Linked DNA regions of Homo sapiens: region 2 is linked to region 1. A link means that fine-mapping ties the variant in region 1 to the expression of a gene that starts in the linked region. Tissue or cell type: prefrontal cortex. Region 1 holds a variant in brackets; the other region holds the start of a gene. All regions are shown on one strand. Distances are between the middles of the regions.

The links. PIP is the estimated chance that this variant, and not a neighbour inherited with it, causes the effect. A credible set is the group of variants that fine-mapping cannot tell apart.
Region 2: LRRC75B starts here. The variant in region 1 is the best candidate, but not a certain one, in a credible set for the expression of LRRC75B in prefrontal cortex (ROSMAP, PIP 0.82).

The regions. Positions count from the first base shown.
Region 1 is chr22:24,650,819-24,653,501 of GRCh38, reverse strand. It overlaps the pseudogene BCRP3 and the pseudogene POM121L10P. Among named protein-coding and RNA genes, the nearest start is that of GGT1, 49 kb to the right of the region's middle. RefSeq lists an enhancer at 1,879-2,646. The variant C/A (reference allele first, on the strand shown) is at 1,457.
Region 2 is chr22:24,591,881-24,594,563 of GRCh38, reverse strand. LRRC75B (leucine rich repeat containing 75B) reads left to right here and starts at 1,491. Exons shown (of 4, transcript NM_207644.3): 1 at 1,491-1,701. The coding sequence starts at 1,525. It also overlaps a transcript of GGT1 not described here. RefSeq lists enhancers at 1-28, 1,078-2,070, 2,071-2,683 and a silencer at 1,364-1,593.

The sequences.
Region 1 (2,683 bases):
GCTTGGCCACCTTGGCCTGATTGAGCACTGAGGCCTCCTGGGCACCCAGCCCTATCACTGCACCTGCTGCTTCCAGCCCCACCCCACCGGCTCTGGGGTTCTTCCCAGCGGCGCTGATCATGAAGTCAACATGCACGCAAGTCGTCTCAGGAAACTTTTTAATGAAAGTGTCGGCCACGGTGGTGTGTAGGTGGCTGAGCTCAGATTGCAGCTGCTAAGACACCAGCCACTTACCAAGAGAAAGCCAGGCTGCTTCAAACCCAGGGCCCGCGGCAAAAAAGCATCACTTCCGGCCGGGGAGTCTGGAAGCCACGCCTTGTGGGAGGTCACACTGGCATCTAGGCCTTCGCCTGCACTGCAGAAGGAGAGCCGGGTCCCCTCCTGGAGAACGCTGCGTTCCCCAGCCCCACACCGGCTTTGCCACCACACAGGCTGTTGAGGCAGGAGGCGGGTAAGACGTAGCTGTAGACCCAAAGCAACCACCAGCCCTGGGACCCTGTGGGAGAGGAGCACTTTTAGAACATGGAAAAGTGTGGTCATCCCATCATTAGACAGCACACATCCTACATAAATAAAAAGTCGTATGGGGAAGGAGGTTGGGGAGGGAATAAAAAATTGGCACAGACATTGATAGACTGGTTTCCAGTTTCAAGGTAACAGATGCACATCATGAGACCAGAGGAGGCAGAGACAAGGGCTGGATTTGGCTTTTCTAAGCAACATGTGTTCCTGTGCAGGGCTGAATGGTCGCTGAGACAGAGATGGAAGCCAGGACAAGGGAGCCCACCGGGCCCAGATAGGTACAGAGAGCAGAGGCTCCTGTTCTGTCCTCGCCACCCACGAGGGTGACACTGCTTGTAAATGGTGGCTGTGCTCTCCCAGCAAGTAAAAAGCACAACTAAATCCACACTGCACACAGACGCAGACAGAAAGCCTTCAAGTAGCTCTGTTTTCTGCTCCCTGCCTTGCCAGGTCCACAAGCAGAGAGGAGTGTCAGGCACATGGCCCCACTGTCAGGCTCCCCAGTGAGCTGTGGGTTCAGCAGGAGCTGCCCACTGACACACAGGGGACACCCACTCCTGCCACCTTGGGAGCGGTTGCCAGACAGAGCCGCACTGGGTGCTGGTGTCATCCAGGGACCCCACACACTTCCTTAAATGTGATCCTGCTTCCCTCTGGGCAGCTGCATCCTCTCCTCCTGCAGGACCGTCTGGAAACTTGGCTCTCAGTTTGATCTCCCTTCTCTCCTCTGCCTGCCCCAAGCCCCTCTTTCTAAAAAAGTGATGCCATGTTCATGGGATTATTTCTTGAAAATACTTGGCGGCCTCCATGCTTCTGTTTTCTTTGAGCCAGGTGGTCAGGAGGGCTTACAAAGAATGCCTGGGCTCCCCCGCAGGTGCCGGCAGATGGGGTAGCGAATGGTCCTGTGCCTCCACCTGCTCCGGGAGGGAGTCTC[C/A]CGTCTCTAGGCCTGGCCCCTTCCTAACCCTCCACGTATCCTGTTCTCCAGAGACTTCAGAACCCACTCCTGAGAACAGCGGAGCCAGGCGCTTAGAGGAAGACCAAATGCTGCCAGGACACGGATTGTCCAGGGATTACATTCCAGCATCTTATTAGGTATCTGGATCTGTTCGGAAAAAAATTAGAAACTATGTATAAAACTTAAAAATATTCAAGTATCAAAAGGTTATTTAGGATGAAAGTTTTAAAACAAGTCATCAGCAAGCTGCTGCCACCAAGTGGAGACTTATACAAAAGATGAGCGAGTCCACTGAGCTGAGAGGACAGAAATGAAGTCACCTGTGCTGGGGCAGGGGCAGGGACACTGGGGGCAGGGAGTGTGTGGGCAGAGAAGCCAGAGAAGTCCAGGCCTGTGGAAGCCAAACAGGAGAGCGTGGGCCGGAAGGGCGGTCAGGATCGGGGGACGAGGTCGCTCTCCCTGGAGAACGAACCCTAAGGTGCGTAGCCTGGGATTCCCTCCCTGGGGGTCCTGTCCCCCGACATTTCACAGGCCTTCTGAGCTGCCTTCCAAGGAGGACTAACACGGCAACAAAAGACCCATTTCTGCACAAAAATCCTTCTGGAAAGAAAAAGAAGAAAGCCAAGAATGGAGTCAAAACGCTACCCAGTGCTGACCAAGCCTCTCAAACCCTGTTAGAAGTGGAGTGTGGTTTCTAAGTCAGGGAAATGGAAGAGGCCCCACCCACACAGGGACAGGGCCACGGCCCCCACAGGATGAAGCAGCAGCGTTTATTCAAGATACAACAGTGAGGGAATCCAGTCACGTTCCCTTCTCCCCAGAGAGGGCGCTTCTTGACAAGTGATTCAGTAGAAATCTTTTGGACTCTATAAGTTAAGTTCATAAAAACCACTGCTTTCACCCTGTCTCCCAGGGCCAGGCCTGGACTCCGAGATGAACTGGCTTGGGGCGCCCTCGGGTGGCCACATAAAAAACCCACAGTCTGAGGCCAGCCTGGGGCTTTCAGACCTGGGCGGGATCTGCCCAGGCCACCTGTCCTTCTGCTTTGGGCCGCTGTCTCTTGGCAGATGGCCTGACACCTGGGGGTGGCCCAAGGATGCCTCAGAAAATCTTGATTCCCACTCTACAGATGGCCCGATTAGCCAGAGGTTTCCAGGCCATCTGTCCGCCTCCAGGAGATGGACTGGGACCTTTAGACATCGGTGG
Region 2 (2,683 bases), 59 kb after region 1:
TCCTCTGCCTTGTCTCAGGGGCCCAGCCCCACAGGATGACAGAGCCTAGCACCCTGCCCTCTCCCCACTGCCATCTCTGGGCAGGCAGTGCTTAACCCAAAGGAAGGAACCTTGAATCTTCATAGGGTAATTAGCAGACACACACACACACACACACACACACACACACACATACACACGGGTGCTTGGCTGTCGTCCCTCATATATGCCCTCGGACAGTGCTCAGCCCTTCCTGCACAACAGGTACCAGTCCTCACAGGCTAAACACGTGCTCCTTGCTTAGAGAAGTGGGAACTGCAGATCAGTGCCTCAAACGTTCCCCACGCAGGAGATGTGAGCGTCCCAGAGCCGGGATTGGGGCTGCAGGGGCCCAGCAGGCCTGCAGCAGAGACCTAGGCTTCTGCTGAGGGAGCCCTGGGAAGTGGGATACACCTTGAGCTGGGTGGGTCCGTACCTCACCCTGGTCCTCAGAGGAGCCAGGGCCCCCATCTCACTCTGCCTGCCGCCACCCCCACCCCTTGTCAGGGAGGCAGACTGAAGCCAGCGGCAGATACAGCCCGCCTGCTGCCAGCTTGCCCAGAGCTGGGCTTAACGGTTAACCTGACTCTTCGTCCGGTTTATTTCCCAGGCTGGGGTCAGAGGTGGGGGCCTGCCCCAAACCAAGAAGCAGGAGGCAGTAAATATTTGCCAGTGCAGGAGTGTCCATGTAGCGTGAGCAGGTCCTACACCACAACTGCCAGCTGCAGAGATTTCTTTTCTTTTCTTTTTTTTTTTTTTGAGACAGAGTTTTGCTCTGTCACCCAGGGTAGAGTGCGGTGGCGCCATCTCGGCTCACTGTAACCTCCGCCTCCCAGGTTCAATTGATTCTCCTACCTCAACCTCCCGAATAGCTGGGATTACAGGCGCCCGCCACCACGCCCGGCTAATTTTTTGTATTTTCAATAAAAATGTGGTTTCACCATGTTAGCCAGGCTAGTCTTGAACTCCTGACCTTAGATTCCGCCTGCCTCGGCCCCCCAAAGTGCTGGGATTACAGGCGTGAGCCACCATGCCCGGCCTAATTTTTGTATTTTAGTAGAGACGGAGATTCACCATGCAGGGCATATTTCTAAAAGCAATGGGGGCAATACCTAACACTGGCACACACAGCAGAACCCCCCCACCCCGCCTAGAATGCTCTTTGCACGGTCAAAGCGACTATTCCCCAGTCAGCACTGGGGCCAGAGGGTAAAGAGGTGCCAAAAGCCACCTCGTCTCGGCCGAGCTCCGCGTCTCCCCTGGCGGCTCCAGGCCCTCGGGTTCTAGCGCCAAGACTGACGCAAGCAGGGCCTCCTCCAGTGTGATCAGGCCAAACCGAGGAACCCACTGGCCTCGCTCCGGCGCGGGGTGGGGCGGGCGCTCAGCCTTCGGACCCGGACGGGGCAGGGCCGCGGTGATTGGAGGCGGGGCGACTAGGGGCGGCCCCGGGAGCGGGGCGCAGACAGCCCGGCCTCCTGTGGGTTCGGCGACCATCGCGCGGCGGCCATGGGGGCGCGGCTGGGCCGGCGGGCCGGGCCCGAGGCTGGCTCTGAGGCCGGGGCGGCGGCCGGCTGCGGGCCCGCGCCCTACGAGCGCCGGGTGCGGTGGCTCCGCGAGATCCAGTCCACGCTCCGCGAGCGGCGGCCGGAGCGCGCCCGGCAGCTGCTGCGCCTCCTGCGCCAGGCGAGAGAAGGAGCCGTCCGCCCCTGGGCTGGCGGCCAGGGAGGGTCTGGGGGTCTGGGGGTCTGGGAGGCGCGGGGCTATGGGTTGTGGGCCTGTATCCGCCGGGAGGCGAGGCGGAGCTGGTCTCTGGCGCGCGCAGGCGGGTTCCGAGGGCGCGACAGGCTGCAGCACGCGGGGTCTTGCGTGGGCGAGAGGGCGACCGCCTGGAGTGAGGGCTGGGTGAGGTCGGCGGACCGTGTGGAGGAGGGGGCTGCTGAGTGTGTCCGGGTCTTTGGGGTTTGAGAGGGGTTGTGTGTGTTGAGGGTGGCCCGGTAGCCTGGACCTAAGAGCCCAAATTCAGGCCCTGGCAAGATGGGAGGGGCCCGGGAGGAGTGGCAAGTGAGGTCAAATCATCTTGTATTGAGAGACAATGGAAGAGGGTAACTTCCCCCTCCTCCAGGATCCGGGAGACAGTGGACCCTGGAGAGAGGACCCAGGGCTGGTCTAGGGATGCAGCCTCACCCCAAGACACCATGGCAGCCCACAGAGAGCCATCCATGCATCACCAGTTCTCCAACAGGCGGCTCATGCCCTTAGAGTACACATCCCCAGCATCTGTGCATCACAACACTCGGTCCGGTGGTGGCTCTGCTCCTACACACACCAGGTACACTAAACCCAGATCCCAACCCCTGGGTTGTCCCAGGATGCTGGTCCCCCCAATCACCTGGGCATGCCACTTCCCTCACCACCCCGTCCCCACCCCCTACAGCAGCTACCACCACTACCTGCCCCATCCTGTGAGCAGGAAGTCAGCCATGCAGGTGTTCGGCCTGCAGAAGGTAGATTAGAAATGGGGAAACTGAGGCATGGAGCGAAGTGGTCACCCCAGGGCCCACAGAGAAAATGTGGGGCAAGCCAGGGCCAGAGCCCTTCTTCCTCCCTTCCCTTCTCCACCTCCTCCAACTCTGGATTCAGCAGGCTGGAAAAATGGAGCTGTCCG